Linked DNA regions of Homo sapiens. The protein of the gene in region 2 purifies or fractionates together with the protein of the main gene of each other region. This does not show direct contact. Each region holds a gene or a part of one and is shown on either strand. Other genes may lie near its edges.

Evidence for each region. Proteins that work in one complex are often made in the same cells at the same time.
Region 1: the proteins of CNBP (region 2) and EBNA1BP2 purify together in Homo sapiens (affinity purification with mass spectrometry; 3 studies listed by BioGRID and IntAct, with this or other methods). This does not show direct contact.

Annotation. Positions count from the first base shown.
Region 1 is NC_000001.11:43,169,271-43,176,941, forward strand, and holds the start of EBNA1BP2 (probable rRNA-processing protein EBP2), read right to left. Parts: upstream 3,010-7,671; 5' UTR 2,872-3,009; coding exon of another isoform or gene 2,849-2,871; coding exon 2,783-2,848; intron 2,700-2,782; coding exon 2,616-2,699; intron 2,443-2,615; exon of another isoform or gene 2,382-2,442; coding exon 2,209-2,381; intron 1,610-2,208; coding exon 1,486-1,609; intron 1-1,485. Other genes in the region: CFAP57 (cilia- and flagella-associated protein 57), read left to right, coding at 3,484-3,640. UniProt on the Homo sapiens protein: Required for the processing of the 27S pre-rRNA.
Region 2 is NC_000003.12:129,173,880-129,180,899, reverse strand, and holds part of CNBP (CCHC-type zinc finger nucleic acid binding protein), read left to right. Parts: intron 1-7,020. UniProt on the Homo sapiens protein: Single-stranded DNA-binding protein that preferentially binds to the sterol regulatory element (SRE) sequence 5'-GTGCGGTG-3', and thereby mediates transcriptional repression. Has a role as transactivator of the Myc promoter.

The DNA of each region.
Region 1 (7,671 bases), on a different chromosome or scaffold from region 2:
ACTGCCTATTTGTAGCCCAGGAAAGAAGACAAACTTCTCCCCATTTCTACTGTCAGTAGACTGAGGCTGGAAACCAGTATGCGGCCTCAGTGTCCTTTTCTAGTATACCACATACACAATAAAAACCCAGGCAGATACCAGGTGCCTAGCCTTTTCAGTCAAACATACACATTTTAGTTAAAGGATGAGAAGTTGTCAGTGAGAATTTGTACAGAGTTCACAGTAAGAAGGTGAACTACTACCACGACAAAAGCTCCCTAAAATCCAGCTTGAGACCCCAGGGTACTATTTAAATATACTTATCCCTCAGTATCCATAGAGGATTAGTTCTAGGACCCACTACAGATATCAAAATCCACAGATGCTCAAGTCCTTTATATAAAAATGGTGCAGCATTTGCATATAACCTACACTCGCCTCCAGTATCCTTTAAAGTCAGAGGACCTCAACTCCCAGGCCACAGACCGCTACGAACCCACTATGAATCTGTGGCCTGTTAGGAACCAGGCCGCACAGCAGAAAGTGAGTGACAGGCAAGCAAGCATTACCACCTGAGCTCCACCTCCTGTCAGATTGGTGGTGGCGTTAAATTCTCATAGGAGTGCGAACTCTACTGTGAACTATGCATGGAACTATGCATGCAAAGGATCTAGGTTGCCTGCTCCTTATGAGAATCTAATGCCTGATGATCTGAGATGGAACGGTTTCATCCCAAAACTATCCCCTCCCCAAGTTCATGAAAAAATTGTCATCCACGAAACTAGTCTCTAGTGCCAGACCGCTTCTTTAAATAGTCTCTAGATTACTTATAATACCGAATACAATGCTATGCATCACCTCATTCTCATGGATTCAATGTAGTTCTCGGCACACGGAAAATTCAGTTTTCCTTTTGCAATATTTTCAAATTTTTTTCCCCAATATTTTTGATCCAAGGTTGGTTGAATCCACAGATGCTGAACCCATGGCTATGGAGGGCTGAATGTATGTTGGATTACATGCTGGCAATCCCTTCTTCCAAAGTTAAATGAGGTCCAAGTTCTACCCAACTCTAAATTGTACTATATCTGAACCATCTAAGAATCCCTCATTTTACAGAGGAGAAAACTGAGGCCCAGAGAAAAGTAATTGTCTACAAGTTCTAGCACTGACAGTGGCAAGGGCACAAGAATGCTGTCCTCTCTGCACACCATGTCATGACCATGCCAGCTAGGAAATGCACTGGGCCATCTTCACCTCGGGGACCACACTTCACACAGCACTGTTCCTCTCCTTAATTGCTGATTTTAGAAAAAATGTCATTTTTATATGCATCTAATTGGTGGTAACTGGCATGACTCTGAAGTAGCCAATCTATGGAAGAGGTAATAATTGTCCTCTGACAACTGGCTCCCCGTTATTGGGCTCATAGCTATCTTTCTAAGCCAGCTGAATATGCTTAAGTACAAAGTTTTGACTTTCCAGAGGAAAACTTCTATTTCTTACCTTCTGCATCTGCAGATCAGATTTGGCCATTTCCGCAAAATAATCAGTGGGTCGCTTCGTAGGGACTTTGAGCTGATGGAGGCGGGGTAAGACTGCAAGCACTGCGGCCTGGGCTTGGCGATAGCTGAGAATCGTAGGACAAAATGTGTAATGAGGTGAAGGAGGAGGCCTTACGTTCCTTTTCACCGCCAATCATGAGTTATCCAAGCTCAGAAGGACTCTCAAAATCTGACCTCCATTAGCAAGAACAAACAAACAAAAACTGTCTCACTGATTTAGTATCTAAAAGAAATGTAGCCGTATACTAGTTTTTAAAAAGGGGAGGGGTGTTGCTAAAAATAGTTTAAGAGAATGACTACTCTAAAGGTACCCATTAACACAAACGAATGTCGATTATGGATTCTTATGTAATTACTAAAGCAATTCCACACAAGAACATCCCATAAGCAATGTTTGTTTGTTTGTTTTCCTAATAACTGAAGCATGCACAAAAAGTTTTAACATGAATATTTCAAATTAGCCCATAAAGTGGATTTTGGATCGTGACCGTGGACCAAAGAGCTCTTCTCTCAAACAGGAAGAATCTCCTAGCTATTCTTAGTCAAAAGAAGCCGCTCTCTCTACTCCTAGGCTTATTCTGAGTGCAGACTTACTAATTTCCCCTCTTTCCCACTCTCCTGCACAAGGATCCTCAACTTCTCCAACATTTGAAAACAAACATACAAACTCATCTCTCGCTGGAAGTCGTCTTCTGGATCAACAGCTTTCTGGTCCTTGTTCTGAGGTGCTGGCGCCTCAGATCCACCGATCTCCGGTACCGGACCCAGTGTCACATCGAGCCTTTCAACCCATTCCAGATCCCGCTTGAATTCTGCCAAACATTGCTTCAGGCCATTCTAGGAAATCCAGACACTGAGCTCACAAGAAGGGAACTCTGAGTTTGTCTTTCCCAAGCACAGGCTGTTAGGCGAAGGGACAAAGTGCTAATCCCCAATACCCAGACAGGTAATTGACCCTCTTGGCGAGGCGCAGGGTGCATCTTTCCTGGGACAAGAATCGGTCTCCCAAGCCCAACAGCGCCTGAAGCGCATCCCATGTCCGAGTACCCCCGACCCTGTGCCCACGCTCACCACGTCGTTCACGGCCTTCTTCGGCCCCTCTAGCACGACATTGAGGCCTGGCTTCAGAAGCCCTCGGGAAAACGCATCCTGCAACTGCAGGACACAATCACGGTCACTCCCAGGGGTGTAAGGCCCCCTCTCCCACGCCCAGCCCCACGAGCTCGGCTGACACCTACCTCTCTGTCTGTGACAAGGGATTCATCGGATTCCGACTCCGAATCCGAGAGCGGGGGAGTGTCCATCTCGCCGCACGCACGTCCCACACCTACAGGAAGAAACGGGGTATCCCGAGACCCAAGCGGCTAGCAGAGGGCGGCCCTGGCCGCTGCTGCCTGCCTTCAGCCCCCTACTCCCACGCCGTGGCTCCACGTGCCACCGAATCGCTCCAGCGCCAGCAACTCACAGCTACTGCTCAACTTTTGATTGGGACTTCCGCTTCCGGCGGCAAACCATACTTCCGGTTTGTCGTTGCTATAGGAACCGCTACGGCGTTTGAAAGTGTCCGGGTTGCTTAGGATCCCTACAGGTAGCGCCTCTGGATACATGCGTGGTCTGCTGACCCAGAGAGAAACGAAAGGTGGGAGGGGGTACCTGGGGGTCGCCAGAAGGAGCTGGTAGCAGTGAGGGTACAAAGGAAAAGGCAGAAAAAGGAGCCGCGGGGGTGGGGTGGCGCGGAGGAGGACCCCGGGGGAGGGGAAAGGGGAGGGACAAGGGGAGGGGAAAGGGGAGGGACAAGGGGAGGAGAAAGGGGAGAGACAAGGGGAGGAGCAAAGGGCGGGGAGGGCGAGTCCGGGCCGGGGGCGGGGTCGGAGCGGGGCGGTGCTCTCCACTCTGAAGCGCTGCCTTGGTCTTCAGCAGAACTGTTTGGCGGGAGATCATGTCAGCCGTGGTAGCTCAGACGCTGCATGTTTTTGGTCTTCGATCCCACGTGGCCAACAATATCTTCTACTTCGATGAACAGATCATTATATTTCCTTCAGGAAATCACTGTGTGAAGTACAATGTGGATCAGAAATGGCAAAAATTCATTCCAGGTAAAACTTTTTCCATCCTGACATATACAGGAATGGTATGTGCCACATATAACCCCATAATCCCAGCATGATGATTGGAAAGAAAGATTTTGGCCAATTTGAATATATATGCAGTATTATAAATGTAGAGGAAATAAATGGCGACTTGTATTATGAAACTAGATTAATCAGTCACGCATATGTAGTTAAAATCACATATAAAATGTTAATTTAAAAGTACTTTTTTCACTGTAATTTCATGAAAATATGTTAAGAACCCCTCTTTTGGTGTCTTCAATATCACTGCCTTTGTCATCACCAGAGCCACTTTTTGAGTTGTCTAACAGTTTTCCTGAGCACACCACCTTCATTATATCACCGTTTGAATCCAAGTATGATGAAGACACTGTAAACTTTATCCCAAGTCGCAAATAACCATTTGTATAGCATTACAGCCCTTATTTTTGTTCACAGTGGTCCTGTTAATGATATTCATTATTTCAACAACCGAATCCATTTTCCCATTCTTTGTTGCATTGACACCTTTTATTGTGACATATACATACAAAAGAATGTACCCTACATATATGTCATATTTAAAGAATTACAATAGAATGTAGATCTGTGAACCCAGCCACCCAGCATAGGAAACAGAATATTACCAGTTCTAGTGCTTCTCCCTGTATTCTGTGTCTTGCTGCATCAGTTCAATGTCATGCTTTTGAGATTCACACATCTCGATACATATAGCCAAGTTCATTTTATTGCTATGTAGTGTTCCATCATATGAATATAATGTCTCAAATATATGTATTCACTCTAATATTGAGGGACATTTGGGAAATAACAATCATTTGCTATTACAAACTATACTACTATAAACATTCTTGCATGCATATACATTCATCTATTTGTGCAGATTCTCTAGGGCACACAGCCAGGACTAAAATTACTGAGCAATATGATAGTACCAATTTACACTCCCACTAGAAGTGCATAAGAGTTCTTATTCCTCAGCAACCCTGCCAACCCTTGGTATTGTCCAACTTCGTAATTTTTTGCTAACCCAATGGTTGAGAAAAGGAATTGTGGTTTTCGTTTGCATTTTGCTATCATTAATGATGATGAGTATCTGTTTATGGGCTATTCCTATTTAGTCGTATGTTAAATGCCTTGTTCAAGTCTTTTACTTGTTTTTTACAGTTTGTTGTGCAGGATATTTTTGGGCAATTTTATTGATTTACATGCACAATTTATATATTCTGTATATCAATAATTTGTCAGATATATATATATGTCTTGCAAATAATTTCTTTCAGTTTGGGGCATTTTTCTCCCATCTTACAAGTATCTTTTGATGGACAAAAATTATTAGTTTTAATAAAGTCAAATTTATCAACCACATAATATTCTGTTGGAATAAGCTGTATTAAATACAGTTGACTTTAATTTATTGATGTTTATTTCCAGCATATTTGCTAAATTATTATTAATTCTAATGATTTGTCTATAGATTATGCAGAGACTTCTACATAGACTATCATGTTATCTACAAATAACGATGACTTTCTTCCTTTTTCTTGTGTTACCTGTGCTGGTAAGCACCTCCAGACAGTGTTGATTAGGGGCAATAAAAATGGACATCTGGCCAGGTGTGGTGGCTCATGCCTGTAATTCCAGCACTTTGGGAGGCCAAGGTGGGCAGATCACGAGGTCAAGAGATCAAGACCATCCTCGCCAACATAGTGAAACCCCGTCTCTACTAAAAATACAAAAATCAGCTGGGCGTGGTGGCACGTGCCTGTAGTCCCAGCTACTCGGGAGGCTGAAGCAGGAGAATTGCTTGAACCCGGGAGGCAGAGGTTGTGGTGAGCCAAGATCGCACCACTGCACTCCAGCCTGGGAAACCAAGCCAGACCCTGTCTCAAAAACAAAAATAAAAAAGATCATATGACTTTCCAATATAAATTAAATTATGGTTTTCTACAGACAACATTAATTTATATTTGCTCTCATACTTACCAAACTTTTTCCCACCATTACTCTTTACAAATCAGATATTCCAGCTGGGATCATTTTCCTTCTGCATTTACTGATAATGTATTAATAAATTCTCCCAGTTTTTGTCTGAAAATGACTTTATTTTATCCTCATTTCTGAAAGATAGTTTCAACAGGTGTGAAATTTTTATCAGCATATTATAGATCATATTCCATTGTGTTTTTTTGGCTTCTCTTTTGTTGCTGTGGTTAAGAAATTAGCTATCAGCATCGTCTTTCTGTAGATGATCTTTTTTTCTGGATGTTTAATATCTTCTCTGTCTATGGTGTGTGTGTGTATGTATCTATACACATACACCATATACATATATACGTATAAAATACACACCATATATACACACACCATATACTATATGTACATGTATATATACATAGTATATATACATACATATAGATACAGACACACACATCAGTATAGTTTTTATTTTCATTTTTTATCCTCCTAGGGATTATTTGAGATTCCTGGATCTAAGGACAGGTATCTTTTTTGTTCTGTTATCTCCTTCTGGAACTCCAAACCATCTCAACTCCATCCTTCCAGTTTTTTATTTTATTTTATTTTATTTATTTATTTTTTAAGAAACCAGGTCTCACTCTGTTGCCCAGGCTGGAGTGCACTGGCACAATCATAGCTCACAGCAGTCTCAAACTCCTGGGCTCAAGCCATCCTCCCCACCTTAACCTCCTGAATAGCTGGGAATACAGGCATGCACCACCTTGACCAGCTAATTGTTTTTATGGAGATGGGGTCTGGCTATGTTGCTGAGGCTGGTCTTGAACTCCTGAACTCAACTCATCCTCCCACCTCAGCCTCCCAAGTAGCTGGGATTACAGGTGCAAGCCACCACACCTGACGTTCATGTTTTTGGGTTTTTTTTTTTTTGAACTCTTATTTGGATTTTTTATACCTTACTCTCTCTGTGTTGCATTCTAGATAATTACTTTAGATGTATCTCGTAGTTCATTGCTTCTCTTTTCTGCTGCATCTAACTTAATGTTTAATGTATCCATTGAGATTTTACTTTCAGTTATTGTGCTCATATTCTTACACTTCTTACTGTATCACTTCTCTTCTGCTCCTAACTCCATCTTATATCACCAGGGGCCTTGTACACATGTGGGTGGATCCTTGCAGCCCATATGTTCAAATTCTACCCATATATTCTATAAGCAACCACCCTGTGCCCATCCTTCAGGCCCAGGTTGAGTAGAGACAGCCTGGGAAGAAACCCCCAATGTTGGTCTTGTCAGCAGGCTCAAGACTATCTGAGCAGGGAACTCCAGAGTCCTGGGTACCTGCAACGTGATCTAGAAGAGGCAGGACAAACTCCAGGCAGCCACTGTATCCCACTTAATGGTAAGGGGTACAGCCAGAGAAAGACTCCGGGATGCTCTAAAATTTGAGGCCCAAGGGAGGATCTCCACTGACCAAGTCTAAGGGTATTACCGGTGAAGGGAAAAATATAAAGGTCATGACATTGGGAGACCTGGCTTTGATCTGGCTCCCCATTTTATAGGCTCACAGAGCCTCAGTCTCCTCATCTGTAAGATGCAGATGATGCTCAGCTTGTTCAGCTCAGAGTCATGATGAGGCTCAACATATTCATTTGTTCACTCAACAAAAATGTATTAAGTACCCCCTGTGTTCCAGGCACAAAATAGACACGCACATATGCACATAAAATGCTGTCCTCACAGTGCTTCCATTCTAAGAGGGGAGAGTGACAAACAAAATAAAAAGAAGTACAGTCTACATGCTAGATAGTGATAGATGCTAATAAGAACAAACAAAGCATGGAAAGTGAAGCCGTTGGGGGAGTAAGAAGTTGTAGATAGGGAGGCTGGGGAGGGCTCACTGAGCAGTGATTTTTGAGTGAAGACTGAAGGAAAGGAAGGAGCTGGCTGTGCTGATGTGGGAGGGCAGGGGGAGTAGCCGAGAGACTAGCAAAGGCTCAGAGTTAGGAGGGTGCTTATTGTGTTGGAGGAATAGCT
Region 2 (7,020 bases):
TACCAAACTGGTGCCTAAAAGCAGTGAAACCACCATTGGACTAATTGGAATGATTTGTCTATTGGCTGAAGATTTGACCACAGAGAGATTCTGCTTTTTTTTCCTTGCAGGGATGAAAAATTAAAAAAAAAAAAAAAGATTGGTTCCTTTTTCTCTTCCTAGCCTCCTGACAGTAAGTAGAGAGCCAGAAGAATGATGCCAAGGCATCCTGGCCTGCTATGTGGAGAACGCTCTTTCCTTACTGTCTCACTTAATAGAACTCCTGTTCTGGCAGTGTCAGATGCTGCAGCAGCAAGGGAATGCCATTGAGTGATTGCAGTAAGCTATGCAGCATTTTCATGTTTAAAACTACTGAGATAATAAAGTGAGAACTTGAGGCCACCAAATTTTAAGTTGTAATTAGAAGGATTTTGTTAATTAGGAATATGAGAGTGCTACAGTGATCACCTGGAATGGCTCCATAAATACAAATGAGGTGTTAACTAGTGAAGCAAGTTGCCAGTGTTTGTGTGTTTGGTGAGACTCCTAAGTTCTGCCATGAAGTTAAAGAAAATATTTTTTAAGATTCAAGAAAGCTGTGTGAATGAATTCAAAATTATTATGACTGTAGATCTTTTAAAAAGCTATCAGTATTAGTTTTACTTTGATTTTTATCTAAAGAGAAATACAGAATGAATACTTACAGCATTACAATTCAAATGTGCGTGGCTTTTTTTTTTCTTAGTTACTAGATATATAGTAGTAATACCTTTATGTAATATTTTGAAGTAGAGATTGAATTGGTATAATTCCCTACCTTAAAAATATTACACAATAGCATTTTTGTCATATATTACGATAGCATTTTTGTGTACTTTACCACTTAACTTTTTTTTTCCTTTTCTTTTTTTTTTGGAGACAAAGTCTTGCTCTGTCGCCCAGGCGGGAGTGCAATGGCAGGATCTCAGCTCACTGCAACCTCTGCCTCCTGGGTTTAAGCCATTCTCCTGCCTCAGCCTCCTGAGTAGCTGGGACTATAGGCGTGTGCCACCACGCCCGGCTAATTTTTGTTTTTTTAGTTTTTTTTGGAGACGGAGTCTCGCTTTGTCACCCACACTGGAGTGCAAATGGCATGATCTCGGCTCACTGCAGCCTCCACCTCCTGGGTTCAAGCGATTCTCTTGCCTCATGCACCACCACGCCCAGTTAATTTTTGTATATTTAGTAGAGATGGGGTGTCACTATGTTGGCCAGGCTGCCGACCTCAAGTGATCTTCCCTCCTCAGCCTCCCAAAGTGCTGGGATTACAGGCATGAGCCACTGCCCCTGGCCAGTGTCAGATGTTTAGTTTGTCATTAAAATGGAGCAAGAATACATAACTCGTGAGGTTGTAAGATTATAGATATGTTTACTAATGACTGACTCATAGATATCCAGCTGTTAAAACTCTTCAAGAAGTAATCAGGGCAGGCGGAAATGGATGTAATTAACCAAGGTCAAGCAGTAAGTTCAGGAACCAGGATAAAAATACAGAATTGCTCCCGAGTAAGTACTCTGTTTTCCATTATTCTGGCTGGAATGCAGGTAATACAGAAAGTATATTGCTTCCTTTCATTGCTTTTTTTTTCTTCTTTTTTTCCTTTGAGGTGGAGTTTCGCTCTTGTTGCCCAGGCTGGAGTGCGATGGCATGATCTCGGCTCACCGCAACCTCTGCCTCCCGGGTTCAAGCGATTCTCCTGCCTCAGCCTCCTGAGTATTTGGAACTACAGGCACGGGCCACCACACCCGGCCAATTTTGTGTTTTTAGTAGAGACGGGATTTCTCCATGTTGGTCAGGCTGGTCCTGAGCTCCCGACCTTTGGTGATCCACCCACCTCTGCCTCCCAAAGTGCTGGGATTACAGGTGTGAGCCAGCACACCCGGCCCCCATAGTTCGTTTTTATTAAAAGAATCTGGGCCATCCTGGCTAACACGGTGAAACCCCCGTCTCTACTAAAAATACAAAAAAAAAGTAGCCAGGCGTCGTGGTGGGCACCTGTAGTCCCAGCTACTCGAGAGGTTGAGGCAGGAGAATGGGGTGAACCTGGGAGGTGGAGCTTGCAGTGAGCCGAGATCGTGCCACTGCACTCCAGCCTGGGCGAAGCAAGACTCCGTCTCAAAAAAAAAAAAAATCTGAAGTGTTTCAGTACCATGTTGGGACAGTAAACTGACTTAACGGAGCATAATAATGTGCATACTTACATACATTCAGAGGGCAAAAGCTCCAGTATGGTCTAAATGCAGTTAAGTGAACAACATGAATGAGTCAGGGATAACCCTGAGCTTGCGAAAAGTAAGCATATATACAAATGTGAATGTGTACAGCTGTGTTAGAAAACCATATAAAATAATAAAGATAGCCAGAATCATACCCTACTTTGCTAGTGTCATTTTTATCTCCAACTTGCCTGTTGCTACTTTATTTTAAATGTATTTTCTAGGACAGAGTTATGAACATTCTATTTATTAGAACCCTAGTTGTTAGTCTTGACCACATACTGTTAGATTTTAGTAGTTTACTATATTTGTTTTTAGTATCAATAGTATGGTACAAGTACTGACATTAAGGAAGACAAATTAGTATACTAACCATTTGTGGTTTCTTTAATTCCAAGATAAGTTCAAAATGTGTAAAATAGTTACACCTCTTAGTTTAGCATACATGGCTCCTCACAGTAAATCTTAAGTCTTGTCAGACCTTATTTTTTTTTTTTTTTTTTTTTGAGACAGAGTCTTGCTCTGTTGCCCAGGCTGGAGTGCAGTGGTGCGATCTTGGCTCACTGCAACCTCTGCCTCCTGGGTTCAAGCAATTCTTGTGCGTCAGCCTCCTGAGTAGCTGGGATTACAGGCATGCACCACCATGTCCAGCTAATTTTTGTATTTTTAGTAGAGACAGGGTTTCACCATGTTGGCTAGCTGGTCTCGAACTCCTGACCTCAGGTGATGCATCTGCCTCGGCCTCCCAAAATGCTGGGATTAGAGGTGTGGGCCACCCCGCCCGGCCCAGACCTTATCTTGACTATCTTAGTCATTTCTTCTCTTGCCTGACATGCCCTGTGCTCCTACCACCCTTTAAAGTGGTTTGTGTCATAAACATTTGATACACAAAAATGGAAACTTAGGACAAATATCTTGATGTCTGGTGGTTGAAAATGTGAACTGATTTGGAAATCACCGGTGTTTCTCCTCTTAATCTCTTCTCCATTCCATTCAGGAAATAGACTGTAAGGTGGGAAACAAGTATAAGCAGTTAGCCTCACTCTAAACCTGCTATGTAATAGACATTGGACTGAGTTCTGTCTACTCTCTGTAAGCAATCCAAGGTAATTGGCGAAAGTGGAAGGAATATGTACTCAGAAGACCAAAACTTTGGTTTTTAAATTGAATATCTATTAAGCACAAGGTAACAATTCTTACCACACACATCAGTTTTATTATTTCCCTTTTACAAATAAGACACAGATGGGTAGTCAGATGTCTTTGAGGTAACACAGCAAGTAGTTAAACTGGGTTAAGTGATTAACCCAGGTTGAGTATGGTTCCAAAATCTCTTACAGTGTCAGGCAGGCTACATCAGTGCAGTATACGTACATCAGGTTTCACGAAAAATTTTTTCCAGAGAAAACACAAACCCAAGGAACCTTCAGTAAGTGGTGCCTTATATTAGTGGTTTTTAGCAAAAGGAAGAAACTTAAGTGTTTTCCTGCTGCCTGACAAAAGTGAAAAACAGTATTTTGGTTTTTATTGAAGTTAGCATGTATGTTTGTAGCTTGCATAAAATAGTACTGAAATCCAATTGATTATGAATTCTTGGACTAACAGAACCTGGATGACAAATTAGAGGTTCTGGCCTGGTTGCTGGCTTTTTTAGTTGTCTTGGGTGTAAATTTCTCAGCCACACGTGGGGATTGTGTTAGATAATCTGAAATCTAATTTTCATGGTTTTATGATTCAGCAGCTTTCTTCCTTTGATATTTTCTAGTATTTGCTTTATTATAGATTGGAATCCTCAAAATAACATTGACAAGTAGAAGATACTTCTGTTAGTGGATTTAAAAAAAAATTACATTGGGAATGTCCTTTGAGTGGTTGGCCCTAATCCCTGTCAGAAGCTGAAAGTTGTGGATCCTAAATTCATCTGGGCAGAATCTCACCTATGATTTCAGAAAGCTGAGAGTTTCAGAGAGTGACTGTAGTCAGTCCTTAGTGAGTACAAAATTGAGAATACATCATTACTTTAAATTAATGGTGCAGTAACTCTTGTGACTGATAGCAATAATTTAGGTGCTTTGTTGTTAGTACTTGATTAGATTGGATTGGGTCAGTTAGTTTCACCAAATTGCTAAAGACACCTGTCCCCCTAGAATTAAAATACTGAGTTACATAATGGCTACTAAAAGGATAACTATATGGGGTGTTCGATGATTCAAAGGTGAATTACTTGGTCTCTACCTTCAAGGAATATGATACAAGGCAATATGGTACTGCCATTAGACAGATATTAACAAAGTGTCTTGGGACTTAATAGGGAGGGTAGTTCCAGGCTGGGAGATGTAGTCAGATTCTTTTATAGAGTTGGCATTTGAGTTGGCCCGTGAAGGTTGGAAAAAGTTGTGACAGGTGGAAAAGGAGCAGGGGAGACCAGGACAGTGCAGTGAAATTCCAGCCAGGAGCAGTCACAGGCAATGAGACAGACTCATGGAGCCATGATTCTCAGCTGTCTTACCTTACCTTAGTTTTCCTAAGGAATATCATGGAATTCTGTAAAGACCTTTAAACTAAATAATGTTCATATGAGATGAGTGCTAGGATGGGGACCTGCTGCCTAATATAAGTAGTGTGAGTCTAAAACATTGTGGAAAGTGGTTAGTTTAATAATGTTATTAAAGAGACAAGTCTATCACAAGGGACCAGTTACCAGTGAAACTGTAGACCACCTGATTCACTGCGATAGGGTTAGCCAAAGGGAGGAGAGGGCAGATTGCATACATAGTACCTAAGGCCACTCAAAGACCTCTTTTAAAATCACGTGTCATGTTGATGACATTTGGAGGCTATTAATGTTTTTCTTCCCTTTTAAGACTTAGTGTTTTCTTTATTAGCATTAATTTACTCTAGTAAACAAAATTATGTGTGACTAAAAATGGCAAAACAGGCTGGGCGCAGTGGCTCACGCCTGTAATCCTAACACTTTGGGAGGCCAAGGCGGGTGGATCACTAGGTCAGGAGATCGAGACCATCCTGGCCAACATGGTGAAACCCCGTCTCTACTAAAATACAAAAAATTACCTGGGCGTGGTGGTGCACGCCTGTAGTCCCAGCTATGTGGGAGGCTGAGGCAGGGGAATCGCTTGAACCCAGGAGGTGAAGGTTGCAGTGAGCCAAGATGGCGCCACCGCACTCCAGCCTGGTGACAGAGCGAGACTGTCTCAAAAAAAAAAAAAAAAAAGCAAAACATCTAAAACTTCTGTTATATTCTAGTGTGTAAAGTTCTGCCTTTGCCACTGAGATGCATATCTGTTTTACAGAATAGTTTTTTTTCTTTCTTTCTTTCTTTGAAGACGGAGTCTTGCTCTGTCACCCAGGTTGGAGTGTGGTGGCCCAGTCTCAGCTCACTGCAACCTCCACCTCCCGGGTTCAAGCGATTCTCCTGCCTCAGCCTCTCGAGTAGCTAGGACTACAGGCGCGTTACCACCACGCCTGGGTAATTTTTTTATTTTAGTAGATTTGGGGTTTCACCATGTTGGCCAGGATGGTCTTGATTTCCTGACCTCATGATCCGCCTGCCTCCCAAAGTGCTGAGATTACAGGCGTGAGCCACCACGCCTGCCCTAATTTTGTGTTTTTAGTAGAGATGGAGTTTCACTGTGTTGGTCAGGCTGATGTCCAACTCCTGACCTCAGGTGATCCTCCTGCCTTGGCGTCCCAAAGTGCTGGGATTACAGGTGTGAGCCACTGTGCCCATCCTTGTTTTGTATTTTCTAAAAGAGATGTATCTTGTTTAAATATTAAATTATAAGATATTCAGGCCTTGCAAATTGTCTGGATTACACTGTAAAAGTAATCATTTATGTGCAAATAATTCCTTGAGATCAATAGTTAAATGAGCTCAAGCTGATCTGACTAAATTGGAGAAGATACAAAATGAAGATGGGGAGGAAGTGGTGCCATAAGCAGCCTTTTTTCTTTGACCATTTTATATGCCTTTTTTTTTTTTTTTTTGAGATGGAGTTTCACTCTTGTAACCCACGTTGGAGTGCAATTGCTTGGCTTGCAACAACCTCCACCTCCCGGGTTCAAGAGATTATCCTGCCTCCGCCTCCTGAGTAGCTGGGATTATAGGCATGAGCCACCAAGCCTGGCTAATTTTGCATTTTTAGTAGAGACGGGGTTTCTCCTTCTTGGTGAGGCTGGTCTCGAACTCCCAACCTCAGGTGAACCATCCTCGTCGGCCTCCCAAAGTGCTGGGATTACAGGTGTGAGCCACCGTGCCCTGCCCGCCATTCGTTTTTTTTTTTTTTTTTTTTTTTTTAATTCTGACTCTTCTGTGGTGGAAACCAGCAAATACTTCACATAATTTAGGATGCTAATACTAGTACAGTTAAAAGAATGATTACAAAGCAGATACTATTTCAAATTCTGTAAAAATCTGTTTTTAATATCCTTCACTGGCTGTTTGTTCTGACTAGAAATGTTTTGTATATCTGAAAGCACCAGTAACTCATAGCCATATAATTTTTTTGGTAATATGTTCATAGGCAAGTGGCAAGAGTTAGTAGAAAGATTTCTCTAAGAATTTATCCTAAATCAGATTACACAGAGTTGGGGTAAGTGAGTATTGTGTTATTTTCTTTTGTATATTTGACAATGGGAACTTTTTGAAACTCAACTTCAGTGTAATTTTAAGTCACTAAATTTGTCCACAAGTTAATGATTAAACAGTTACTGAAAGTGGAGAACCTTGCCATTTTTCGGACTGCGTTTTGGGTCTTTGGCACTGTG